Linked DNA regions of Homo sapiens: region 2 is linked to region 1. Evidence: fine-mapped expression QTL. A gene starts in region 1. The other region holds a variant in brackets. All regions are shown on one strand. Distances are between the middles of the regions.

Region 1 (8,332 bases):
TCAAACTCCTGGGCTTAAGGGATCCTCCCACTACAGGCTCCGGACTAGCTGGGACTACAGGAGCATGCCACTGTATCCAACTGGCTTTTTAAAAAAAAAAAAGAAGAAGAAAAAGAAGAAGAAGAAAGAAAACAAAACAAAAAGGCTGAGTGCAATGTCTCACACCTGTAATTCCAGCACTTTGGGAGGATTGCTTGAGGCCAGAAGTTCAAGACCAGCCTGGGCAACACAGAAAGACCCTGTTTTTACAAAAAAAAAAAAAAAAATATATATATATATATATATATATGTATGTATATATATACATATATATATATTTTTTTTTTTTTTTAAAGAAAGAAAAAGAGACTGGGTGTGGTGCCTGTAATCCCAGCACTTTGGGAGGCTGAGTGGGGAGGATCACTTGAAGCCAGGAGTTTGAGTATTCAGTAAGCTATGATCATGCCACTGTGGTCTACCAGTCTACGCTGGGCAGCAGAGCAAGATCCCATCTCTCTCTCTCAATCTCTGTGTGTGTGTGTATACATATATATATATATACACACACATACAGTAATACATATATATAGTAATTTCAGATTACCATAGATTACTATATATAGATCTATACAGGGATATATAGATATATATAGATCTATAGATATATCTCCCTGTCTATATATAGAGATAGATATATATAGATAGATATACAGAGATAGATCTCTCTATATCTATTTATATCTATCTATATGTATATCTATAGAGAGAGAAATTTTAAAAAGAAAAAATAGGCTGGGTGCAGTGGCTCACGCCTGTAATCCTAGCACTTTGGGAGGCCGAGGCAGGCGGATTGCCTGAGCTCAGGAGTTCGAGACCAGCCTGGGTAACATGGAAAAACCCTGTCTCTACTAAAAATACAAAAATTTAGCCAGGCGTGGTTGTGCGTGCCTGTAATCCCAGCTACTCGGGAGGCTGAGGCATGAAAATCCCTTGAACCTGGGAGGCAGAGGTTACAATGAACCAAGATCGTGCCACTCTACTCCAGGCTGGGTGACAGAGGGAGACTCTGTCTCAAAAAAAAAAAAAGAAAGAAAGAAAGAAAAAGAAAAAGAAAATAACAAGTGTTGGTGAGGATGTGGAGAAATGGGAACTCTCATGCATTGTTGGTGAGAATGTAAAATGGTGCAGCCACAGTGTAAAACATTTTGGAATTACTCAAGACATCGAATACAATTACCATATGTCCCAACAATACCACTCTTAGGTATATACCCAAAATAATTGGAAAAAAAATTAATCAAATACTTGTACACCAATGTTTCTAGCAGTACTACGCACAATAGTGAAAAGTTGAGAGCCAAGCGCGGTGACTCATGCCTGTAATCACTTTGAGAGGTCAAGGCAGGCAGATCACTTGAGGTCAAGAGGTCGAGAACACCCTGGCCAACATGGTGAGATCCCATTTCTATTAAAAATACAAAAATTAGGCGGGGCACGGTGGCTCAAACCTGTAATCCCAGCACTGTGGGAGGCTGAGGCAGGCGGATCACCAGAGGTCAGGAGTTCGAGGCCAGCCTGTCCAACATGGCAAAACCCTGTCTCTACTAAAAATACAAAAATCAGCCAGGCATGGTGATTCATGCCTGTAATCCCAGCTACTCAGGAGGCTGAGACAGGAGAATCACTTGAACCCAGGAGGCAGAGGTTGCAGTGAGCTGAGATCATGCCACTGCACTCCAACCTGGGTGACAGAGCAAGACTCTGTCTCAAAAAAAAAAAAAAATTAGCCAGGTTTGGTGGCACATGCCTGTAATCCCAGCTCCTGGGGAAGCTGAGGCAGGAGAATCATCTGAACGATTCCTCCGATAAGGGGGAGGTTGCAGTGAGCCAAGATTGCGCCTGCACTCCAGCCTGCAGCACAGAGCAAGACTCTGACTCAAAAAAAAAAAAAAAAGGTGGAAACCACCCATGTGTCCATAAACAGATGAATGCTTGAACAAAATGTGGTATATCCATACAATGGAACCTTAGTCAGCCATAAAAAGGAATGACATTCAGGTATATGCTATAACATGAAGGAACCTTGATGACAAGGTTTATTTTACCTTAGTAAAATAAGCCAGGCACAAAAGGATAAATATTGTATGATTCCACTTATATATGGTACCTAGAGTAGTCAAATTCATAGAGATAGAAAGTAGAATGGTGGTTGCCAGAACTGGGAGAAGGGGGCATGGGGAATAATTATTTATGGGATGCTGCAGAGTTTCTGTTTGTGATTAATGAAGTTCTGAAACTGTAGAGCGGTCATGGTTACACAACATTATGAATGTGCTTAATGCCACTTAACCAAACACTTAAAAACGACAAATCTTATGTATATTTTACTATAAAAATACATAAGGGGATTCATAGCTTTTCAAAATGCTTCTAGGGAGTATAGGAGAGGGGGAAAAAGCCAGTAGTCCTCAATGCAATGAGCCCTACACCAGCAACTTTAAGGCTGAGGCAGAGAAATGTAACTGTTAGAGCCACACCACCTGGTCAGCTTTTTTTAAGTGTGTGTGCGTGTGTGTGTGTTTGTGTGTGTGTGTGTGTGTGTGCATGCACATTTTGTTTTTCCTTTTTGTGGAGCACTATATTCCCCAGGCAAATCTCAAACTCCTGGGCTCAATCTATCCTCCTGCCTTTGCTTCCCTAAATGCTGGGATTACAGGTGTGAGTCCAGCAGCTTTTTTTCTTTTCTTTCTTCCTTTTTTTTTTTTTTTTTTTTTGAAACAGGGTCTTGCTCTGTTGCCCAGGCTGGAGTGTGATGGAGTGATTATGGCTCACTGCATCCTCCAACTCTCCAGCTCAGGCGATCCTCCCATCTCAGCCTCCCAAGTGCAGGTACCTGGGACTACAGGCACACACCACCACACCCAACTAATTGTTAATTTTTTTGTAGAGACGAAGTCTCCTTATGTTGCCCTGGCTGGGCAACTCCTGGGCTCAAGCAATCCTCCTGCCTCGGCCTCCCAAAGTGCTGGGATTACAGGCACAAGCCACTGCGCCCAGCCTTGGTGAGCTTTCTGAACTCAAAGCTGAGTAGAGACCTGAAGTAACTATCAGGACAATATGGGTCAATAAAACTCATCCTCCTACTTCCATTCGTGTCTGAGTTAAAACAGTATCTTCCACTTAAGTGCTCATTTCTCAAGTTTTGATTTTAAATATAAAAACAGCCTAAAGGTGCTTACTGTGTTTACTTCTTTTATATTTCAACTATCTGATTTTTTAGCAGTGTCTAGGGACAAAAACTAGCATTTCTCTGAGACCATCACATCCCCAATCTGACTGCTATGTGAATGGTTTGTTGGGTGCCTGGAATGGCTTGTTTATGTAAGCTCTCACCTGTAATCCCACACTTTGGGAGGCCGAGGCGGAGGATCACTTCAGGCCAAGAGTTCAGTTCAAGACCAGCCTGAGCAACATAAGGAGATCCAACCCCCTACCCCCATCCCCACCTCCAACCCCAGCTCTACAAAAAAATTAAAAAATTAGCTAGGGCCAGGCGCCGTGGCTCACGCCTGTAATCCCAGAATTTTGGGAGGCCGAGGCGGGCGGATCACGAGGTCAAGAGATCGAGACCATCCTGGACAACATGGTGAAATTCCCGTCTCTACTAAAAATACAAAAATTAGCGGGGCGTGGTGGCGTGGGCCTGTAGTCCTAGCTACTCGGGAGGCTGAGGCGGGAGAATCGCTTGAACCCGGGAGGCGGAGGTTGCAGTGAGCCTTTGCGCCACCGCACTCTAGCCTGGCGACAGTGAGACTCCATCTCACCAAAAAAAAAAAAAAAAAAAAAATTAGCTGGGAGTGGTGGCACGCGCCTGTAGCCCCAACTACTCGGGAGGCTGAGGCGGGAGGATCGCTCGAGACCAGGAGTTTGAGACCAGCCTGGGCAACATAAGGAGACCCAACCCCCCCGCCCTTCAGCTTTACAAAAAAATTAAAAAATTAGCCAGGAGTGGTGGCGCCGCGTGCCTGCAGCCCCAGCTACTCGGGAGGCTGAGGCGGGAGGGTCGCTTGAACCCGGGAGTTCAAGGCTGCAACGAGCTATGATAGCGCCACTGCACTCCAGCCTGGGCGACAGAGCAAGACCCTGTTTTACACAGACAAACAAAAACGAACAAAAAGGTCACAGCGAACTTTGTTCAAAAGTCACATTAACACTTAAATGCCTTAACCCGGACTGAAAGCCCGGGCTTAGGACACAGGGCAGCTCTCCCTCAAAAAGGGGTCTCCCAGCAACACCCAATCCACAAGTTGCTCCTCGCCCTCCCCAAACCGGTACAAGATATATCAGTCTCTGGGCAGCTCCAACGGATTCTGAAGCTACGGGAGGGACTAAGGAACAAATATGAAATGTCGGACAAATGAAATGTGCGCAACAGCTAGGTTTTGGAGGATAAGCCAGTTGCTGAGCGACTTCTCAAATCTTCCAAGTGCCTCCAACACCTCTCCCACCCGGTAGGGCTGCGCTCTTTAGCTCTTTCAACCTTCCACGACCGGCCTCTCCGCTGCCCTATCAGCAAATCATCGGGCCGGTGCCTGCCAGTCCGGGCCAATCCCGAACACATTTACTTTGAGCGGGAAAAGCTCAGAAGCGGCGAGAGAGCGTGGTCCGCTAACCGCCCCTTCCTCTCCTTGTCTCTGGGGGGTAACGGAGCCTGGAGTGGTCGCCCATTGGATGGGCATCGGACCAATGGCGGGCTGCGAAACGGGAGGGGCGGGCCTCACAGCGGGGCGGGGCGCGCCTGTGCCGTGTCGCGTGCCGAGCCGCGAGCCCCAGGCAGGCCAGGTAACGGCCTCTGCCCCCGCCCCTCCCTCCCCGCTCGGACTTCCCTTACCCGCACACTGGCTCCAGGCAGCGCCCGGGCGGCGGAGGCGGCTGCGGAGACGGCGGGGTGCGGGCTGAGGGAGCCGGGCCTGGACGCCCCCCCCATCACCCCCGTACCCCAGGAGCTGTGCCTAGTCCAGGAGAGGCTGGGGGGCGCCCCATGGAGGTGAGACGCGGAGACACCTGCCCGCGCCCTCACCCCTCAGGCCTGAGGGAGGAAGGACTTGAGGTAATGGATGAGGAAGGGCAGGGTCCAGGGGGCGGCCAGACTTGCAAGAGGCGACGAGGAGGAGAGGCTGAGGAGGGGGCGCGTCCCTAGACGGGGCGGCAGAGGCGGGTCGTCGGTGGGGAGGCCGAACGGGGCGGGCGGGCGGGGGGCGCGGCGCGGGCTGACTGGACGGGCCGGACGGAGCGCGGGTCGCCGCGATTCCCGGGAGGCAGCCGTCGCGCTGAGGCGGTGGCCGGGGAGGGGCGCCCCTCGGGGTCAGCACTCAGGGGGCCCGAGGGGAGAGTGAGAATCCCGAGGCTGGAAGCGCGGGCCCCCACATTCGTGTCCTCTGAGAGGGTTCGGAATTGAGCCGAACAGCCGAGGTAGAACAGGTGTCGGGCCGTTTCAGCTCCGGCGTCACCCTCGTGACCACTTTCTGATATTTCCTATTCCCGTGTGCTGCAGCCCAAAGTCGCGTTCCCCGGAGGTGCGAATCGCTGTTGGAACCTCGGCGCCGACGCCGGCAGCAGGTTAACCGACGTCTTCGGCAGCGTGATGTTGACTGGCTCCGCTTCCTTCTACGATTGCTACACATCGCAGGTCCTTTAGTAAACTCTGCCTCTGTTAGACGATTTATTCTCAAATGGATTTACTCGAGCCACCGATTCATAGGTGTTTAATGGCTCCACAGTTAAGGAAGAGAAAACCAGGGAAAACTTTTTTTTTTTTTTTTTTTTTTTGAGACAGAGTCTTGCTCTGTCTCCTAGGCTGGAGTGCAGTGGCGCCATCTCGGCTCACTGCAACCTCCGCCAGCCGGGCTCAGGCGATTCTTGTGCCTCAGCTTCCTGAGGCACGCGCCACCACGCCCGGCTGTTTTTTTTGTTTGTTTTGTTTTTGTTTTTTGTTTTTGAGATGGAGTTTTGCTCTTGTTGCCCAGGCTGGAGTGCAGTGGTGCGATCTCGGCTCACCTCAACCTCTGCCTCCGGGGCTCAAGTTATTCTCCTGCCTCAGCCTCCGGAGTAGCTGGGATTACAGGCATGCGCCACCACGCCTGGCTAATTTTGTATTTTTAGTAGAGACAGGGTTTCTCCATGTTGGTCAGGCTGGTCTCGAACTCCCAACCTCGGGTGATCCGCGCACCTCGGCCTCCCAAAGTGCTGGGATTACAGGCATGAGCCACCGCGTCCAGCCGTTTTGTTTTGTTTTTTGAGACGGAGTCTCCTTCTGTTGCCCAGGCTGGAGTGCAGTGGTGCGATCTCGGATCACTGCAACCTCTGTCTCCCTGGTTCAAGCAGTTCTTCCGTCTCAGCCTCCCCAGTAGCTGGGATTACAGGCACCTGCCATCATGCCCGGCTAATTTTTGTATTGTTTTTAGAGACCGGGTTTCACCATGTTCCCCAGGCTGGTCTCGAACTTCTGGGCTCCAGCCATCCTCCCGCCTCGGCCTCCCAAAGTGCTAGGATTTCAGGCCACAGCGCCCAGCCCAGGAACAATTTTTTTTTTTTTTTTTTGAGACGGAGTCTTGCTCTGTCGCCCAGGCTGGAGTGCAGTGACGCAATCTCCGCTCACTGCAAGCTCCACCTCCCAGGTTCACGCCATTCTCCTGCCTCAGCCTCCCGAGTAGCTGGGACTACAGGCACCCGCCACCACGCCCGGCTAATTTTTTTGTATTTTTAGTAGATACGGGGTTTCACTGTGTTAGCCAGTATGGTCTCGATCTCCTGACCTCGTGATCCGCTCGCCTCAGCCTCCCAAAGTGCTGGGATTACAGGCGTGAGCCACCGCGCCCGGCTACAATCTTTTAAATACAGTGTTTGCAGAATACATACTTTGCTTTGAAAATAAGTTAAGGGCCGGGCGCCATGGCTCGTGCCTGTAATCCCAGCACTCTGGGGGGCTGAGGCGGGTGGATCACCTGAGTTCGGGAGTTCAAGACCAGCCTGGCCAACATGGCGAAACCCCATCTCTACTAAAAATACAAAAATCAGCCGGGTGTGGGGGCAGGCACCTGTAATCCCAGCTACTTGGGAGACTGAGGCAGGAGAATCTTAAACCAGGGAGGTGGAGGTTGCAGTGAGCCAAGATCATGCCACTGCACTCCAGCCTGGGTGACAGAGTGAGACTCCCTCTCAAAAAAAAAAAAAAAAGAAAAAAGAAAACAAATTGAAGAATAAGATTTTTCATTGATTCGTTTCCATCTTGTCCTTAGCATAACATAATTCCAGAAATGTAAGAAAATCCATTATTTAGTAAGATTAAAATATGTTTTTTTTCGTTCAGGCATTTATTGCAAGTTGGTACAAACATATTTTTGATAATTTAAAGGTGAAAATTTCACTTTACTCCTTTATTTTCTGGTTTTAACAATGTCTTAAATTATATGCTACCACTTACCTCACCAAGACATTTAGATTTATTAATCAAAGGAAATAAAGCTTGGGTAATGTAAGTAATTTTCATTTGAAATTATTTAACCAGGACATCAATGTTGATATTGTTGTACTTTGAATTATAACAATATCTAGAAATAAATTATTTTATTTAATCCACACTAAGAATCTTGTATATTATTATGCCACTGTACAGATTGAGAAACTGAGCCTCAGAGAGCTTGATTTGTGCCCTAAATGACAAAGCTCAAGTGGAACCCAGACCATAGTTCCACTGCTCTCTGCAGTGTTTACATCCGGACTAAAATTTATTTGGATTTAATTTCAGTTCACTGTTTTAAGTATGTTAAGGATATAAGTGATACATTTTAAAGTTAATCCAGTTAATATGCCCACTCAAATATTTGCATATTTCCTGGCCTCTGTTAACGAAAGGGATGCAGATATTTCAAGTATGATTGTTTGAATCCACCACATTACTTTAGTTGTTTTAACCCAAGAATACAAAAGTTAAGTCAGTCCTTTAAAAGGATTTTATTTGTAATATTCAAAATGTATTTTAAAATGTAAAATGTACTTGAAAGAATACTCCCAAAATATTTTCAATTTCCAATACTGTTTATTCATTTGACATTACATAATCTGAAAATGTTCCTTTTGTTTAAGCAACTATTTCAAAAAGATGAACAATTATTTATGTCACTTTGGATACTTCACACATAAGAGTGGGCCTATGATGATAACTTTAGAACTCAAAGGATAAAATTAGGAAAGAAAGATAAAAAGCCTTTGTAAAAGTTGCTGCTAACCAACAAATTCTGGAAAGGTAGTTTTTAGTTTTAGCTCTCAGCAAAATCCCTTCTGTGTTTCCATT
Region 2 (8,332 bases), 30 kb before region 1:
ATATCCATCCACATGCACACACACAGGTATTCACACAGGCAGATCTGGTACATCTGTGTAGCCAGCCCTCTCTCCATTTCTATCCGTTTTTCAGGTCAAGGAGACCCAAAGTCCTGCCCTAGAGTTTTTCCTGGGAAGTTAATTAACTGACCATTCCTGCTCCCACTAGTGTGAACAGGGGGTGTCGGTAGGGATGAAACCCAGTCAGTCACTGACTGGGGAGTCTGACTTTGATGTGTTCTCTGGGGTGTGCATGCACGTGTGTGCATAAATGCCTCCTGGTTCTGACTGGCTCGAGTCAGTATAGAAGTAAGTTCTGGTGCTAAGAGCAGGCTGGATGGCTCACACACATTCTATAAATCCAAGGAAGCCAAAGTGAGATCCAAATTCTGCAGGGGTCAGCCCAAATCCTCCATCTAACCAGCCCTGCCACACTCTTCCCCATACTCATCCTCTGTCCCATGCGTACTCACCGCTCCCTGATCATGCCACATTCTTCCATTCTTCTGCAGCTTTGCCCATACTGTTCTCTCTGCATGGAATGCCCTTGCCCCCTCTTTTTCCTGACAACCCTAGTGTCTGCCTTTTGTATCACATGATATTGCAATGATCTGTATATATTATTATTATTATTATTTTAGACAGAGTCTCACTCTGTTGCCAGGCTAGAGTGCAGTGGTGTGATCTCTGTTCACGGCAACCTCCGCCTCCTGGGTTCGAGCAATTCTCCTGCCTCAGCCTCCCGAGTAGCTGGGATTACAGGCATGTGACATCACACCTGGCTAATTTTTGTATTTTTAGTAGAGACAGGGTTTCGCCATGTGGGTGAGGCTGATCTCGACCCCTTGACCTCAGATAATCCGCCTGCCTGGGCCTCCCAAAGTGCTAGGATTACAGGCGTAAACCACCATGCCCGGCGATCTGTATATATTAATAGCTCCACTTTCCTCAAGAGCAGAGACCATGCTCTACTCATTGCCATATCACTAGTGCTTGGCACACAATAATTTTCAACAAACACTGGTTGAACTAATGATTGAATGAACAGCTATTGCTCCCAGATTCAGCAACTATTTCTCCTCCATGTCTTTGCTCTGTCCAACTCCACCCCAATTCCCCGGGCTGCTATGAGAAGGGGCAAGGGTCCCAAAGGCTAGAGTGTAAAGTTTGGGCTGCATTCTTGAGGCCCCAGGGAGATTCTGCAGAGTCTCCGAAAACAGGGAAGGATTCCATGTTGTAGAGGTGGGCCCAGCAGGCCCACAGGCCCTCACACCCATAGTGGGAAAAGCCAGAGAATTCTGCAGGGTTTTTCTAATGTTGGGGAGGATGTCTCAAAGTCCGAAATAGCCTGTAAACATTGGGTTAAGTGTTAGGGTCTGCTGGGAATACTTAGACTGGGACTGAGCCAGTACCCTGCTGGAAGAAAATAATTCTGGCTGCTGAGGTGGGGGCAGGTGCAGTTGAAAAAAGCAGTCCTCAAGATCAGTGCTCCTGGCTGGGCGTGGTGGCTCACGCCTGTAATCCCAGCACTTTGGGAGGCCGAGGGGGGCAGATCACTTGAGGTCAGGAGTTCAAGACCAGCCTGGCCAACATGGTAAAACCCCATCTCTACTAAAAATACAAAAATTAGCCAGGTGAGGTGGCTTACACCTGTAATCCCAGCTACTCTCCTGAGGCAGGGGAATCACTTGAACCTGGGAGGCGGAGTTGGCAGTCAGCCGAGGTTGCACCACTGCACTCCAGCCTGGGTGACAGAGCAAAACTCCATCTGAAAAAAAATGAAATAAAAGATCAGTGCTCCTCACACTTGAATGTGCAAATTCCCTGGGAATCTTGTTAAAATGCAACTTCTGATTCAGAAGGTATGAGGTCAGCCCCAAGATCCTGCTTTTCTAACAAGCTCCCAGGTGATGGCACTGTTGGAAGGGTAGAGGAGGGGCCAGAACGCAGTTGGAATCACACTTTGAGTAGCAAAGACCTAGAAAACTAGCATTATGATCCAGACGCTGAGGATTCAGCCCTTAAAGGGAGTAGCTGCCATCAGCAACATCAGTAAGGTGTTCAGAAGATGATGCAGGAGACAATACACAAAGCAAGCCTGACAAAAATCTGGCCCGCGTGCCTACCCTTCCATTCTTTGATTCTGTGACCATGGCAGACATCACTAGTGGATCCCAGCACTATCTCCCACTAAGCCAAAAGGATGCTTCAGAATCCATCTCACCACAGTACTCCAGGTAGTCACCCAATTAATTACAGTTGGCATGAGAAATAACCCCACTTGCTATTTCTGGTATTGTGGTTAAGAGTCTGACTACTTTTGCTCCACTCTGGCTAGTTTGATGCCCTTACAGCAGCTTTCATGAACATCAGTTATTTAAATATGTTGTAATTTGAGGTAAAGAGAGCCCTCATTTTGTAGTTTTGGATGTTAAATGAGGCTGGGTGTGGTGGCTCGTGCCTGTAATCCCAGCACTTTGGGAGGCCAAGGCAGGAGGATTGCTTGAGCCCAGGGGTTTGAGACTAGCCTGGGCAACATAACAAGACCCCAACTCTACAAAAAAATTTTAAAAATTAGCCGGGTTTGGTGGTACACGCCTGTAGTCCCAGCTACTTGGGAGGCTGAGGCACAAGGATCTCTTGAGCTCAGGAGTTCAAGGCTGCAGTGAGCTATGATCACGCCACTGTATCCAGCCTGGGTGATGGAGTGAGATCTCGTCTCAATTAAAACAACAACAACAAAGAACATTAAATGATATTATGAATGTTAAGTGTCTGGCACATAGAATGTGCAGATATTCAATAAATGGTGGCTAGGCCTGTCACGGTGGCTCACGCCTGTAATCCCAGCACTTTGGGAGGCTGAGGAGTGCGGATCACTTGAGGTCAGGAGTTTAAGACCAGCCTGGCCAACATGGCAAAACCCCAACTCTACTAAAAATACAAAAAATTAGCTGGGTGTGGTGGTGTGCATCTGTAATCCCAGTTACTCGGGAGGCTGAGGCAGGAGAATCACTTGAACCCGGGAGGCAGAGGTTGCAGTGAGCCAAGCTCCTGTCACTGCACTCTGGCCTGGGCAACAGAGCCAAACTCTGTCTCAAAAATAAATAAAATAAAATAAAATAAAATAAAATAAATGGTGACTACCATGTAGAGGGGTGAATATATTGCCTGCACAGTTTGACAGGACATGGTGGTGGAATGGGAAAGAGGAAGAGAGGGAGACAGGAGCCAGAGTGCTGGGGTGGAGAAGAATAGGTGACAAAGGCTATTCCTGCCTGAGACTGTGGGCAGATTCCCAGCTCTCTTTGGTTGGCCCTGGGCTCCCTACTGACACTAAAGCTCTTTGAAAGAGGTGAGTGGCACTTGTCATCTTGAAATACCTGAGTACAGAACTTCTTTTCAAGGAGAGTTGTGAAAGACTCCAATATGGTCAAAAAGATTATTGTCTGTCCTTGTGTGTTATTTTCTAGTTTTATGGTCATCGAGCTATTTTACCACCCAATCAATGGAAATAATTCTTGTCCATAGAAATGCAAATTGCCTGGTGCATATGCAATTGATTATTGCTCAGTGGTTATTGACCAATTTAGCATCTATTAAGCAGATTTACTTCATCTTTTTTTTTTTTTCTGAGACAGCTCTGTTGCCCAGGCTGGAGTACAGTGGTGTGATCATGGCTCACTGCATCTTCAGCTTCCCGTGCTCAAGTGATCCTCTTGCCTCAGCCTTCTGAGTAGCTGGGACTACAGGTGTGCATCACCATCCTTAATTTTTTAAAATTATTTTTTGTAGATAAAATTTTTTGTAGATTATTTTTTGGATCTCATCATGTTGCCCAGGCTGGTCTTGAACTCCTGGGCTCAAGTGATCCTCCTACCTTGGTCTGTCAAAGTGCTGGCATTACAGATGTGAGCCACTGTGCCGTGCCTACTTAATCACTCTTTTTGTTTGGTTTGTTTTGTTCTAAGACGGGGTCTTGCTCTGTCACCCAGGCTGGAGTGCAGAGGCATGATCTTAGCTCACTGCAGCCTCAATCTCCTGAGTAGCTGGGACTACAGGTGCACATCACCATGCCTGACTAATTTTTTAAATTTTTGGAAGAGACAGGGTCTCACTATGTTGCCCAGGTTGCTACTTCATCATTCTTTTTTTTTTTTTTTTTCTTTTTTTTGAGACAGAGTCTCACTCCGTTCACCCAGGCTGGAGTGCAATGGTGCGAACGTGGCTCACTGCAACCTCCGCCTCCCAGGCTCAAGTGATTCTTATCCCTCTGACTCCCTAGTAGTTGGGATTACAGGCATGCACCCCCATGCCTGGCTAATTTTTGTATTTTTAGTAGAGACAGTGTTTTGCCATGTTGGCCAGGCTGGTCTTGAACTCCTAGCCTCAAGTGATCCACCTGCCTCAGCCTCCCAAAGTGCTGGGATTACAGGTGTGAGCCACAACGCCCAGCCTATTTCATCATTCTGGATGGCCTAAATACGTCTCTGCTCTTTGGATCGTCCTTTGAACTGACTGTAACATCTTACTGGTTCCTTCACTAATTAATGAGTTAAATAAAAATTTTGACACGATTATTGTATATTTCTATGAGAGTAATTATTTTGCTTTGTAAAAAAAACCTTTTTTTTTGACATTCTCATTAACAATGAAGATTGGGCAGGAGGTTTCCAAGACCCTCTGCCCCGGACAAGCTTTTCCACAGGCTCCAATCGCCATTACATCTGTCAGGTTGTTTTTTT[TG/T]TTTTGTTTTGTTTTTGAGACGGAGTCTTGCTCTGTCTCCAGGCTGGAGTGCAGTAGCACGATCTTGGCTCACTGCAACCTCCGCCTCCCAGGTTCAAACGATTCTCCTGCCTCAGCCTCCAGAGTAGCTTGGACTATAGGTGCACGCCACCATACCCAGATCATTTTTGTATTTTTAGTAGAGACAAAGTTTCACCATGTTGGTCAGGATGGTCTTAATCTCTTGACCTCATGATCTGCCCGTCTTGGCCTCCCAAAGTGCTGGGATTACAGGCATGAGCCACCACGTCCGGCTCATCTGTCAGGTTTATAGGGGATTACCCCCACTTCATTGCTTGTTTTATGCCATCCAAATAGATACATAATTATTCAATATTTGAGCTGGACACATTCTCAAACATTTATATGAGTTTGTTTAACAAAACATATAACAAACCTACAAGTACCACACCAAATACTTATCCATGTATTCATTCAATGATAGGAAGTTGCATGTGGCAGGGACTGCATTTGTGCCTCTTTTGAGCTTAGCAAGTGCCTAACTCATGGTAAGTACTAAAGACACATCCACTGAGCCAACACATGAATGAATAAGCCCAGCAAGACTTTACTAAGTGTTTACTATGTGGTGAACATTGTTTTAAACACTTTATTTAATTTAATCCTCAAACTAGTTACATGGTAGGTACAATTAATTACTATCCTCATTTACACATAATACAGAGAGGTGAATGAACTTGCTCAAGGTCAACAGCTAGCCATGGCTGAGGCAGAATTCAAGCCCTGGTAGCCTGGCTCCTGAGCCTATGATCTTGGGCACCCATATGCGCCAGGCATCTTGCTAGGTTCTGATATACAGAGATAAAAGACACACCAAACACAGACTTTCCTTAAGGAGGTCACACTGAAGAAAGGCAACAAATAACTAAAAAGAATGTGACGTGCTCTGGCAAGTGAGAACACGATGCTAGGGACAGAGGGTGTCAGAGGGTTGGACAGGTGTGGTTGACGGCAGAGGGGCCACCTGACCTGAGGCAAGTTCTGAGGCTACTGGTAGTTAATGTTCAGATCAGAGGAAGGGAAGAGCATTCAGGCCACTGGTATGGTTGGTCTGAGAAGGTGAGAGTCCCGAGGCCGGAGCCCAGAAGTGCAGAGAAGTGAAACTGGAGAGAGGAGCCAGGTCCAGATCCTGGAAAGCTTCACTTGCTGAGGGAGGAAGGGTGTTGGGATACCCCTTGGAGGCCTCGCAGGACTGTTCGCAAGGGAGATATGAACTCAGATGCCACACTCCACCTGCCCTGCCCAGGACACGAAACCCAGTACACAGAATTCCCTACAAGCTGTATCCCACTCGGGAGAGTTCCCCGGGAGGGCTAGACAGGAGGGCAGTGCTAACTGAGTGTGGGACACAGCCAGTGCCACCTGGGAGCCATGGCTGGGAGTCTCTCTCCAAGCCCTCCCCCACAATCCCTTCAGTCACCCCCCACCCACCCTTGCCAGCTCAGACACTCAGGCACACTCCCTCCGGTCACATCCCCCTTGAGGCCAGAGATAAGAATAAGCAACATGTCTCTTCCCACATCCCTTCCCTGCCCGCCCTCTGATTCTACCATCCAAAGCAGCTGCAGAGCCTGGAACACCCCAGGCCCCAGTCAGAGGAGGGAGCATGGGGAGATGGGAGCTTCCTGGGGGGGCCGTGGCTATGGGCTGTGCCCTCCCCTCCCACAGGGCTGAGGCTGGTGATTAGTTGGGTTAATTATATCCGAGCCATTTCCGATTGGCACAAGCCCACCCACCCACAGAGCCTGCCCAGAAGGCAGGCAGGCCGGGCCCAGGTCAGGATGCTGGGGCACCAGCTCCTCTAGGTGGATTCCTGACCCCTGTGCTGATGGCCAAACGGAGGCTGATTGTCCTCCCTGCTCCAGGACGGCCTCCTCTTCACTCACCAACTTTCTTACCCATCCCTCTGTTTTCTTTGTACCAACACAAGTCCCTCTCACTCCCCTCTCCTCCCCCCAGGTTTGGAATGAAATCATGGGGCCCTGAGTTCCGCAGTAGGCCCTGACATAAACACTTTGATTGGGGCTAATTATAAGGGCCAGGCTGAGAGGCTGGAGCCTTCGGAAAGCTTTGGCTTTCAAATAAAGGGCCCACGGCTCAGTCCCTAGCCCAGGCGGCTCTCTTCCAGGCTTCCTTATGAATGAGGGGTTCCAGAAAGAGGCAGTCCTCTAGAAACCCCGTGGTCTGTGGGCTCGCTCCATGTCCCACGCCTCATCTTGTCCCTTCTCGGTTGCTTTTGCCTTGGCCCTTCCAGGCCTCAGATCCCAGGGCCTTGCCGGATGGCTTGGCAGAGCCACCAGTCGGCCGTGGAAGACAAGGCAGCAGGGGAGGAGCTCTCAGGCTGGGAGGCAGGGGCAGCGGCAGGGGCAGGGTCAGGGGAGGCGCAGGGGAAGCCAGCTGTGACAGCCCAAGCCCTAATTAGTCGGCTTCAAAGCCGGCCGGAGAGAGAGCCCGCCTGCTTGTGTGCCCTGCTCACTCAGGCGAGTAAGACATTTCTGTCCCAATCAGAGGAGAGAGAGAAAGAAAAACACGGCCCACCGCCACCCCGAAGAGCCTTTAGACACTGGGCTGGTACCCCGAGTCAGGGAGAAAAACTGAGAACCCAGGAAATCATTCTCTTCTGTTGAAACTGATACGTAAGTGCTAGGAAGGGAAGTGTGTGGTGCCTTTAAATGATACAGAAAGGGGTAACGGAAGTGCTGGGTACAGGAGGGCGTAGTCCTTGGCTAGGGCTCCACCCCCACGGACCTAGGTGAGGACAGGCATTTTTGTTTTCCTGCCCAAATGTTGCGTTTCCCAAGTCCACCCTGTCCTGCCACGCCCCCATCCTGTGCCTATAAAAACCCGAGATCTACCCCCCCCAAGGAAAGCCAAGCCAAGCCGCTGGATGTTGAGGAGGAGCACGTCAGCGGAGGCACACACATTGGCTAGGCGTTGAGAGGAACGCACTGATAGGCACCGGCATGCTGGCAGGCCACTGATCAGGCAGAGCAACACAGAGTTTGGCTGAGGCAGTCAGAGGAGAGCGCGGGCCACCGAGCGGCCTGATTCCTAGGCGACAACCATTTACCTTCTGGCTGTCCCATATTCTGAGAGCGACTTCCACTCAATAAAACCTTGCACTCATACTCCAAGCCCACATGTGATCCGATTCTGGTACACCAAGGGAAGAACCCCGGGATACAGAAAGCCCTCTGTTCTCGGTCTCTGCGCCAAGGAAGAAGTCTAATTGAGCTGGTAAGACAAGCCACTTATCGACAGCAAAGCTGAAAGAGCACCCTGTAACACGCGCCCACTGGGGCGCCAGGAGCTGTAAGCATTCACTCTTAGACACTGCGGTAGGGCCGGAGCCCCACAGCCTGCCTGTCTGTATGTCTCCCCTAGAAGTTTGAGCAGCGGGGCACTGAAGAAGCGAGCCACACCCCTATCGTATGCCCTGCAAGGGGGACAAGGGAACTCTTCCCATTTCACTAGCACTTTGGGAGGCCATGACAGGAGGATCACTTGAGGTTAGGAGTTAGAGGCC

Which allele goes with the higher level. Alleles are on the strand shown, and positions count from the first base shown. SD is a standard deviation of normalised expression in the study named.
As copies of T replace TG in region 2, the expression in prefrontal cortex of the gene that starts at base 4,875 in region 1 goes down (small effect, 0.26 SD a copy in CommonMind).

Evidence for each region. PIP is the estimated chance that this variant, and not a neighbour inherited with it, causes the effect. A credible set is the group of variants that fine-mapping cannot tell apart.
Region 2: its variant is the best candidate, but not a certain one, in a credible set for the expression of MEIOC in prefrontal cortex (CommonMind, PIP 0.58).

Annotation. Positions count from the first base shown.
Region 1 is chr17:44,651,594-44,659,925 of GRCh38, forward strand. MEIOC (meiosis specific with coiled-coil domain) reads left to right here and starts at 4,875. Exons shown (of 8, transcript NM_001145080.3): 1 at 4,875-5,089; 2 at 5,534-5,668. The coding sequence starts at 5,021. RefSeq lists a silencer at 4,679-4,888.
Region 2 is chr17:44,621,380-44,629,711 of GRCh38, forward strand. No RefSeq gene overlaps it. Among named protein-coding and RNA genes, the nearest start is that of LINC01180, 25 kb to the right of the region's middle. RefSeq lists a silencer at 7,086-7,205 and an enhancer at 7,316-7,475. The variant TG/T (reference allele first, on the strand shown) is at 4,746.